2 separate regions of the Homo sapiens genome follow, and region 1 is linked to region 2. Evidence: fine-mapped expression QTL. A gene starts in region 2. The other region holds a variant in brackets. All regions are shown on one strand. Distances are from middle to middle.

Region 1 (5,378 bases), 31 kb after region 2:
TGGGGTGGCATATTCTGGTCTTATACACTGTCTTCCACCAGCAATGAAAAGAGTTATTGTCTTTCTTGCAGCAATTTGTGATTTTTTTAGAGTTTAGCAGTTCTAATAGATATAGACCAGCTGTGCTATCTCCTGGTTTTCAGTTCTGTAGTATGTTGAGCATCTTTTTGTATGTTTACTTGCCATCTGTAGATCTTCTTTGGTGAGGTGTCTGTTCAGATCTGTGTGCATTTTTAATTGTGCTGTTTAACTTGTTTAGTTTTAAGAATTTTTTATATATTTTGAATACAAATTCTTTCTCAGATCTGTATTTTGCAAATATTTTCTTCAATATGTGGCTTGTCTTTTTGTTCTCTTAAGAAGGTCTCTTCCAGAGTATAAACTTTAAAGATTAAGAAATCCACATTGTCATTTCTTCTGTGTATATCAACCTTTTGTGTCATTTGTTAAAATTCATTACCAAATCCAAAGGCACATAGCTTTTCTTCTATAGTTTCTTCTAGAAATTGTATAGTTTTGCATTTTTAGTGTAAGGATGATTTTGAGTGGTTATTTGTGCAAGTTGTAAAGTTTTCATCTACATGCATATCACTTCTTATGGTTTCCAATTAATCATTCCCTCACTATTTTTGGAAAGACACAGGATAGTGGGCTCTGTTAGAGTTTATATATAGCTAGACATGAACAGGAGGGGAGCTCCTAGAAAAGGGAAAGTCTGGGAAGGCTCACCTGGAGGGACCACCAAAAATTCACATATTAGTAGCATCTCTAGTGCTGGAGTGCATGGGCACTTGTCAATTGTGAGTAGGAGGGAGAAGAGGTACCTATGCAGAAAGAAACACCCTAGAACTCCTCTTAAGATGCCCCAATCATCATTCACTCTGCAATAAAAATGTCAGAATATTGCTAGCTACATGCTGATAAGAAGGACAAAGGGGACATTCTTAAGAGAAACCTGGCACCATAAGTGCAGATTAGGGCAAAGAAGGACATTCAAAAGAGATAGGCAGGCACACTAGGTACAAACGTGACCGCTGTCAGCCTGCCTGGGATGGCGGGAAGGAGGCTGGTGCCAGAGTGGATTCGGATTGATACCACACATGTACCTCAACCAACAGTGAGGAGGTCCCACAAGCCTAAGTGTGGCAAGTCGGGGACCTAAGGCAGTAGCAGGAAAACCAGACAAAGAGAACAGGTGGAGACTTGAGACAGAGACAGGAATGTGAAGAAGTCCAAAATAAAATTCCCTGCACAGGACTCCTAGGATGTTTTCATGCACGATCAGCCCACTCCTCCCTATTTTTCTACAATGAGCTCTTTACACTGTATTTCTTTTCAATGAAGTTGTCTGCCATTTTTGTACTGCCTCTTGGTGAAAATCTTTCTTCCAAGTTAGACAAGAACTGGGACATCAGCTCTCCCTAGTACTAGCTCCGTTTCAGTTGAATTTACAGAACTGATGGGGCTTAAAAACTGATGCTCTGACTTTAAGTGGTGCAGGAGGCAGCCAGTAGGGGACGCCAACCGTCACACTGGGAGCAAGAGACCCCCGCCTAGTCCCCATCTGCCTGCAGGTGGCGTGCTGCCTCGACACTGCCACCAAGAGGGCCAGGCAGTGTCTCCAGCTGCCAGCAGGCGGCGTACGACGACTACACTGTGAGCAACAGGGCCCTGCAGTGTCCTTAGCTGCCAGCAGGTGTCATATGGGCACCACACCATGAGCAAGAGGACCCCGCAGTGCCCTGGTTGCCAACAGGGGGCGTGCTGCCACTACACTGTGAGCGAGAGGTTCCTGTAGTGCCAGCAGGTGCCAGAAGAGGGCGTGCCCCCACTGCACTGCAAGCAAGAGGGCCCGGCAGTGTCCCCAGCTGCCAGCAGGGGAGCCAGCCGCCACTACACTTTGAGCAAGAGGGCCTGGCAGTGTCCCCAGCTGCCAGCAGGGGGGTGTGCTGCCACCACACTGTGAGCAAGAGGACCCTGCAATGTCCCTAGCTGCCACCAGGCGGCGTGCCGCCGCTATACTGTGAGCAAGAGGCCCCTGCATTGCCCCGGCGCCAGCAGGGGGCGCTGGCCACCACTATAAGCAACAGAGCCCTGCAGCTGCCCTAGTCGCCAGCAGGGGGTGCACTGGCACAGCACCGTGACCAAGCCAGTCCTGTAGTGCCCAGCTGCAAGCAGGGGGCGGTCGAGCCCGGCTTTTCGAATTATTGAGGTTCCTCCCGTCTCTGCGCCACGCCGCTGCGACGGGCGTCTCCGCGCCTGCACCGCGCTCCCCTCCCCAGCACAGGGGCGTGCGACTGTGCTCCTGCACCACGCCACCCCAACCCAACCCCCGCCCGGCAGCGTGCTCTCTGCGCATCCGCCGCGCCTCCCCCGCACGTCGCGCCAGCCTGTGCGCGCCTGCGCCGGCGCGGTGGGCCTCTCTGTGCCCGCGCCGGCGTGGGGTGCCTTTGCGGGGGCAGAGCTGCGTTCTGCTTAACACAGACCCGGGGCACACCGCAAAGGTGGAGCAGCTTTCTCAGCACACACCTTGGGGGCACAGCCTCGCTTTGGGACAACTCGGGGCCGCATCGACAGTGAACAAAATCCTTTCTGTTTGCAGCCCTGAATAATCAGGGTTAGGGTTAGGGTTAGGGGTTAGGGGTTGGGGTTGGGGTTAGGGTTAGGGTTAGGGTTGGGTTAGGGTTAGGGTTAGGGGTTAGGGTTTAGGGTTAGGGTTAGGGTTAGGGTTAGGGTTAGG[G/GT]TAGGGTCAGGGTCAGGGTCAGGGTCAGGGTCAGGGTTAAGGGTCAGGGTCAGGGTCAGGGTCAGGGTCAGGGGTTAGGGTTAGGGTTAGGGTCAGGGTCAGGGGTTAGGGTCGGGGTCGGGGTCGGGGTCAGGGGTCAGGGGTCAAGGGTCGGGGTCAGGGGTCGGGGTCAGGGTGAGGGTGAGGGTGAGGGTTAGGGGTTAGGGTTAGGGTTAGGGTTACGGTTAGGGTTAGGGTTAGGGTTAGGGTAGGGTTAGGGTTAGGGGTTAGGGGTTAGGGTTAGGGTTAGGGTAAGGGTAAGGGTTAGGATTAGGGGTTAGGGTTAGGGTTAGGGTTAGGGTTAGGGTTAGGGTAGGGTTAGGGTTAGGGTTAGGGTTAGGGGTTAGGGGTTAGGGTTAGGGTTAGGGTAAGGGTAAGGGTTAGGATTAGGGGTTAGGGTTAGGGTTAGGGTTAGGGTTAGGTTAGGGTTAGGGTTAGGATTAGGGGTTAGGGTTAGGGTTAGGGTTAGGGTTAGGGTTAGGGTTAGGGTTAGGGTTTAGGGGTTAGGGTTAGGGTTAGGGTTAGGGTTATTGGTTAGGGTTAGGGTTAGGGTTAGGGGTTAGGGTTAGGAGTTAGGGTTGGGGTTAGGGTTAGGGTTCAGGTTCGGGGTTCGGGTTGGGGTTGGGTTTGGGGTTATGGTTAGGGTTAGGTTTTGGGGTTAGGGTTAGGGTTTGGAGTTAGGGGTTAGGGTTAGTGGTTAGCGTTAGGGTTAGGGTAGGGGTTAGGGGTTAGGCTTAGTGGTTAGGGTTAGGGTTAGGCTTAGGGTTAGATTACAATTTCTAACCTGTTTTATTTTGTTTTTTTTCTGAGACAGGGTCTCCCTCTTTTGTCCAAGGCTGGAGTGTGGTAGTGCTATCACAGCTGACTGCAGCCTCAACCTTCCAGGCTGAAGCGATCCTCCCATCTCAATCTCCTACGTGGCTGACACTACAGGTGCTTGCCACTATGCCCAACTAACATTTGGAATTTTCGTATACGTGGATTCTAGAGGGGTGACAGCGAAACGTGAGTAAGCATGGATTTTGGTATATGCAGAGATGGAGGGCTGGAACTAATTCTGTATACTGAGGGACGACGACTGTATATGTTTTTACAATTACGCTGTAGGATACATACTGTTGCATAGCCTTGAAAATAATAATTTTTAATTGAGTGGAATAAGAATAATATTGATAAAAGTAGCAGCTGGCCAGGTGTGGTGGCTCACACTGGTAATCGCAACACTTTGGGAGGCTGAGGCAGGAGGATGGCTTGAGGCCAAGAGTTTGCGATAGGCCTTGGAAACAAAGGGAGTCACCATCCCTACAGAAAAATACATGAATTAGCCTAGTGTGGTGGCATGTTCCTGTAGTCCCAGCTACTTGGGAGGCTGAGGTGGGAGGATCACTTGAGCCCAGGGAGGCTGAGACTGCAGTGAGTCATGATCAGGCCTCTGCACTCCAGCCTGGGTGACAGAGTGAGACCCTGTCTCTAAACAACAAAAAAGTAGCAGCTAACATCAACTGACCTTTTACTGAGTGCCTATGGATACCATAGTTTAATTTCTTATAACTGTTTCTTATTTTACTTACCAACTCTGTCTTCAGTTACTCCCAGATTTTTACTGTGTGTGTACAGATGACCTTTTGGAGGAGCCTCAACAGGCACAGCTCCTCCCTCATAGTGGCCCATTTAGGCCCAACTCATGACTGTCGGGCTATTTCCAGGCCTAGTGTCTGCCTCGTGGCTGACTGTTGAAGCCCAAAACTTCCTCAAATCAGCCTTTTGCCCAACTTCTGTCTACTGTCGGACTCTACAGGCCAGCCTCTGCCTCACAGTGGACCCTCCAGACCCAGATGGTGTCTCACTGTGGCATCCTCAGGCGAAGCTCCTGCCTTTTGGCAGCCTCTCCAGGCCCAGCTCCTCCTGCCTCCCAGTGGCCTCTTTCGGCCCAGCCCAGCTCATGGCTCTCGGCGGCCTTCCCAGGCCCCGCTTTTGACTTTTGGCAGCCTCTTCAGGCGCAGAACTTGATCTCCAGTCGGCCTTTGCAGGCCCGGCCTCCTGCCTCTCGAAGGCCTGCACGGGCCTGGCCTCGGCCTTGGCCTCACAGCGGACTCTCCACGCCCAGCTAGCTCTCGCCTCACTGTGGCCTCCCCAGTCCAAAGCTCCTGCCTTTCGGCCACTTCGGCAGGTCCAGCTCCTGCCTGCCAGTGGCCTCTTTAGGCCCAGCTCATTCCTCACGTCGGCCATTCCAGGCCCCGTTTTTCCCTTCCGGCAGCCTCTTGGCCTCTAATTTGTTTATCTTTTGTGTATAAATCCCAAAATATTGAATTTTGGAATATTTCCACCATTATATATTTTGGTAGGTAATTTATTTGGAGTGAGTTTCTGCACCATGCCCGAATTTTTTATTTTATTTTCCTTATTATTTGGTGTTAAACAGGTTTAATGACGGTCATGGCAACTTTTTGGCACAATGAAAAATATCGCCCATGATCAACGTGTTCTGTTCTGGGGAAGGGGGCAAAGGCAGGGTGAATCACTTTCTTAAAAAGTATAGCTCAAGTTGGGAGTGCAGAGGGAATGGGGAGAAAACCCTCCCGCTGCCTGTGTCGAAGTG
Region 2 (5,378 bases):
ATATACCCTGTGAAGGGTTATGAATGCTGATGGTAGTGGAAGCTGATGTGGAGGGGAATGGTGGAGACACCTTGGAAAACCAAGCAAGAGTCTGAAGTTGTGGCAGGCCGGGTCTCACTAACGCAGGCCTCCATTACAGCTGTCCCAGCACGGACTGAGTAGCCAGGTTAAACATTAAAAGCTGATTGAGCCAATGCCCTTATACAAAGGTTGGAATGTAACAAAGAGCCCACCAAGAGTTTTGCCTAGGCTCTTCCTGGGCCTTGAAGCATGACAAGATAACGAAGGAACTCTTAACAGGACCCTTTTTAGGATTAAACAAGTTGTATTAGGGATCTGAAGAAACTCCCCAGGCCTCCACAAACAAGTTTATGGGGGTCTAAAGGAATTCCCCATATCATTATGATTTAGCAGGAGACAAGATAAGGGTAATCACCCCAGCACCTAGACCCATTTAGATTAAGTAAACTTACTGAGGCTCCAGAAGAGGGTCTTCAGGACTCAACCTTAGTCATAGATTAAAAGAAGTTAATCACTTATGTCTGTAGATGAATGCACACTTACATGTAGACATACAGCTTAGAAGGTATACGAGCTTTGGAAAACTTTGTAATTTTGAGTTGGTATGGTGATAATTTCCAGGCCTTCTCCTTGTAACCGGTTACAGAAATAAAACCTCTCTTACTCTCCAGCTCATTTGCATCTTGTTATTGGGCCAGGAGAAGTAGTAGCCCGACCCTCAGTTGGGTCCAGGAACAAAGGGAGTGTCTGAAGACAGCAGTGATGTGATCACCTGTTTTAGGAGGACCACTCGCCAGAGCCCAGGGGAATGGTGGGAGGGGTGGGGAGAGGTGAGGGGAGCTGGGACAGGGCAAGGAGGGATGTATGGAGGACGTGTCCCCTGGCAGTAGGAAGAGAGTCAAGGATGACTCCAGGGCTTCTGTAATTTGAAACAGTCACAAATAACCACAAGCTCTCAGGTGGAAGGACACTGAGAGCCCCATGAAGGTCATGAGGTGGTGGGCCACCTCAGGTCCGTGGATCCAGGACCATGGATCAACAAGAGAAGTGAGGTCTCCCTGGGACCACATAACGTGGTGAAGGCACCGGCCTTTGGTTTTCAAACTCTGCTCCTAAGTGGAGCTCCAGGGTCTGGGGAGGAATGCCGAGTTAGGAGGGAGGCGGGAACCGGAGACCCAGGCCCACTCGTCCGCCCCAGCGACGCTGGCACTTGCACATATGAGGCGGCTTGCATGGCTGTGCTTGAAGAAAGGGTTCTGCAGCTACAGCCTATCTGCAAAGCCCCACGCGAAGTTTGGGCAATGGGCTGTGTGAACCCAGAAAATGGGAGACAGGTCTCAGTTAATTTACAAAGTTTATTTTGCCAAGGGTGAGGACGCGCCCGTGACACAGCCTCAGGAAGTCCTGACATGTGCCCAAGGTGGTCGGGGCACAGCTTGGTTTTATACATTTAGGGAGACAGGATACATCCATCGATACATGTAAGAAGCACATCGGTTCGGTCTGGAAAGACGGGACAACTTGAAGCAAAGGCAGGAAGACTCCAAGCGGGGAGGGAGCGTCCAGGCCACAGATAGGTGAGACACCAACGGTTAAATTCTTTTGAGTTTCTCATTTGCCTTTTCAAAGGAGGCAAATCAGATATGTATCTATCTAAGTGAGCAGAGGAGTGACTTTGAATGGAATGGGAAGCAGGCCTGCCCTAAGCAGTTTCCTGCTGGAGTTTTCCTTAGTGATCTTGGGGGCCCAGGATATCTTCCTTTCACAGCTGATTTCACAAAGCCGGCTGGGTAGGAGGGCCCCAGGGCCGGGTGGCCGTCCGCGTGGCAGGGCGGGGGTCCCAGGGCGGCTGTGCTTGGTGCTGGGAGGCCGCCCGAGGGCAGCGCCGGCCCCGAGTCAGCAGCCGCAGGGCACCCTGGAGATGCGGAACGCCCCCAGCCGTGGGTCAGCAAAGGCGTCTCAGGTGACCCTTAGGGAGGGCTTCTGAGGCAGCCCGTGCGGGGTCCGTCCTGGCTGAGCACTGCGCGGACGGCGCGCCCGCGAGACTCGGACCCGGCCTAGGGCTCAGCGAGCTCTCAGCGGGGCGGGCGGACGCAGGCAGCCCAGGGGAGTGGGGCCCGCCCTGCGCCGCCATCACCCCTTTAAGTGCCAGGCCCGCGGCGCATGCGCAGTCAGGCCGTTGTGCGCAGGCGCAGAGGCGGCGGCGGCGGCGGCGGCGGCGGATGTTTACGGCGGCCGAGGTTGGAGCGGCGCTGCTCGGCCGCGGACACACGAGGGACGCGCCCGAGGAGCTGCAGGTGGCAGCCCAGGCGGTCCGAACCCGTCGGCCGGCCGAGCCTGGAGGTAGAGCCGCCGCCGCCGCCGCCGCCCCTCGGTCCGGCCTGCGGCGAGCGGGTGGTGTGTCCCCTCGGCCCCTTCCCTCCTCCTTCCCCACCCCCGGCACCCCTGCGCCCGGAGCTCTCCTCTGGGGGCGTCGCTCCTCCCCACCTCGGGCACCCTCACCTCCCCCCAGCGGCCTCCAGGGCGTCCCGCGTTTCTCTCTCCGAGCGCTCGCGGTTTCCCGTCGGTCTCTCCCGGTGCCCGTTGCTCACTCACACTCTTGGGTCTGGTTAGTCCAGACCTGCAGCTTGTCTTTGACTTCCCAAGTGGGAAACGTTTGCAGTTCCAAGGCAAGCCAAGAGCTAAGGTTTAGAACAAAGTCTGCCTTGGACCCTTTCAGAAGATGACAGGATTTTTTAAAAAAATAATTGCGCCCCCCCGCCCCGTGCCTTGGAGATAGTAAGAATTGGAGCAGAGCACTGGGACTTCAATTCACGCATGGAAAGAGATCTTTGTTAGTTGGAGGAAGGAGAACTTGCCTGAGCTTCGGGCCTTTGTTTTGTTTTTGTGAGAGGGACGTGTCTCCTAAATGAATGTTTGCTCCAGCGTTGCACCTCAAATAAGTCACCTAAATATCCACGCCCTCTTTATCCACCCCCTCTTTACTCGTGTGACTAGAATAGTTTTCATTTTTCTTCTCAAGGGAATGGCTAAACAGCTCCTATCTGGGCGTTTGATAGACTGTCATTCAAGAATGAGTGAAGTTGAGGTGCCTATAAGCAACTCAGAAATTGTTGTGGCCACGCTTGGGGGAAATAGAGCCCTACACTCAGGTGATGAGAGGAGACCTCAGAGGTGACCGATCCAGGGCCTTGCTCCCTGCGCCACCCCAGCTCGTACCTCCAGTGGAACTTGGCTGGGCTTATCAAGAGCTCCTTTCATTCATTGCAACTTCATTTGTTAGAAAGCTTCTCTGTGTATTTAGTAGGCATTGTCTCCAACATGTACCACTGGTCTGGCTTTTGTTAGGCCCATTAATAGTGTACATGTGACAGCCTTTCAAGTATAGGTGCTCCCCGGCTTACGGTGGGGTCGCATCCCAGTAAACACATCGTTAAACCTGAAGTCGAACCATCCGAAGTCGGAGACCATCTGTATTTGAAAAAAGTCCCTTTGCATTGCTTGTAAGAGTTCTGGTTTTCAAGGTGAGAAATCTGTTTGTGTGTTTGTTTGATCATTCTGCCCAAAGGAGATGTGGCTTTGGGTCCTTTTCCCCACTCATCTTCCACAATGAATTACTTTGTCCATATTACCCTAAAGAAGTGACATCCAAGTTGGAATGTGATCTTCCGTATGTCGCCTCCCAAAACCCCACTACCATAGCTTCATGCTTGTGTTGACACAGCCACAATCACAACTCAGGTGTCAGTTCTGAGACCTTCCCATGCCTGTCGCCACTCAGCAAGTGTTCTTCATGTGCCCTGGCAGTTCGCATTGTAAGGAGCAGCCAGGTTGTTATGGACTGTTGCTAGTTACCACAGAGTAGTGAATTATATTAAGGATTAATTACAGCAGACAATGTGCACAGTATCATCGAGTGCAGCGTTCTAAAAATGATTCTACACTTTTACTTTGAAAAATTGGATTTGACCAGATTGTAGAATCTGGGTGAAAATGATAGGATTTGGTTTGGCGAAGAGCTTTGTTGTCGGTGTTTTTGGTGACATCATGACTGATCATATCGATGGTTTTCAGTGCGAGGGAGTGTTAGATTACCAGACAAAGATGGTAATAAATATCAGACCCCACAGCTATTCACATGGATCCTACCAGTGGCAATAGGTATAGATAGGGTTACCCCATCGTCAAAAGGTTACCGGTGTGTTGTGTGGTAAAGAACGTTGCTGTCTTGAGTATTTTTAAAAGCTGCACTGGTGTGGTATTAAAAACACAGGCCTTTTGCCATACAGTCCTGGGTTTGAATGCAGCCCCCTCCTCACAAACTGGCTATGTGATCATGAACAAATTAACCGGCCAGCTCCAATTTGCTTCTTAATGTTGTGAAGTGTAAATGAGGCCATGACTGGCAGGTGGTACCTGGAAAAAGGTGCTTGTTTTTACTAAAAAGCTGTCTGAACTTTCAAATTAAGGCAGAGTTCAAAATAAGTGATAGTTACTTAGTGGAAAATGAAACCTATCCAACATACAGTTTGAGGTTACCTTCTAGAGATGTGGCATTGAGACAATGTTGGAACATTATATACAGGCTTCTGGGTGAAGAGGTGGCTTTGACTGAGGACGGTATGCGATTTTCCAGCTCTTTTCCTAAATAGACCCTTAAGCATCCAAACACATGATTCCGCTTTTAACCACTGACCCAAATTTTAAGATGACTGTGGTAGGCTAGGGTGCAGCCTCAGAACTGAGTGGCTTATCCAGGATTAAAGTTGACCTCATTAGGACTTAATTCCATCTAAGTCTAAGTCAGCTGGCTGTGGACCGTAATCTAACAAGGGCTCCGAAACAATTCAAAAAATTCAAAAAGGGTGTGAAAATTTAATGACTGGACCATCCTATTGATTTGCAAAACCTAATATTCAGCTCTAAAATCTTGAGTGTGAAGATTGAGTGTTCCACCATAAAAATAGAAGAGAATTTGTGTTAAGCTATACCCTTCACACTTTTTGTTCACTTGTAAGAAACTATGTGATTATTTTCATTCCTGGGAAAACCTCCCACCGCTGTCTCCAGTTGTGTACGTGGGTGTGTATGAAATCCGCCCCAGGCCCCTTGTCACCCCACAGTATTTCTTTACGATCCTCATTCTACTGTTAGAAATCCAGAGGAATGTGAGGAGGAAAGCAAGTATAAACTTCATCATAATTATAACAAGTTGTTAAAAAGGTTGTGTTCATTTCAGAAAATGTCTTCATGAGGTCTGGTGGTCTTTTTCCCTGACAATTTGTATCTGGTGTTTTGTAAAGCATTACCATTTTATATGAAGTTAAAGCAGTTACTTTGAAAAAGTTACATGGGGT

What was found. PIP is the estimated chance that this variant, and not a neighbour inherited with it, causes the effect.
Region 1: its variant is the best candidate, but not a certain one, in a credible set for the expression of PCMTD2 in monocytes after LPS (Quach 2016, PIP 0.89).

What each region holds. Positions count from the first base shown.
Region 1 is chr20:64,284,086-64,289,463 of GRCh38, forward strand. No RefSeq gene overlaps it. Among named protein-coding and RNA genes, the nearest start is that of PCMTD2, 31 kb to the left of the region's middle. RefSeq lists a silencer at 2,070-2,262. The variant G/GT (reference allele first, on the strand shown) is at 2,741.
Region 2 is chr20:64,253,507-64,258,884 of GRCh38, forward strand. PCMTD2 (protein-L-isoaspartate (D-aspartate) O-methyltransferase domain containing 2) reads left to right here and starts at 2,242. Exons shown (of 6, transcript NM_018257.3): 1 at 2,242-2,364.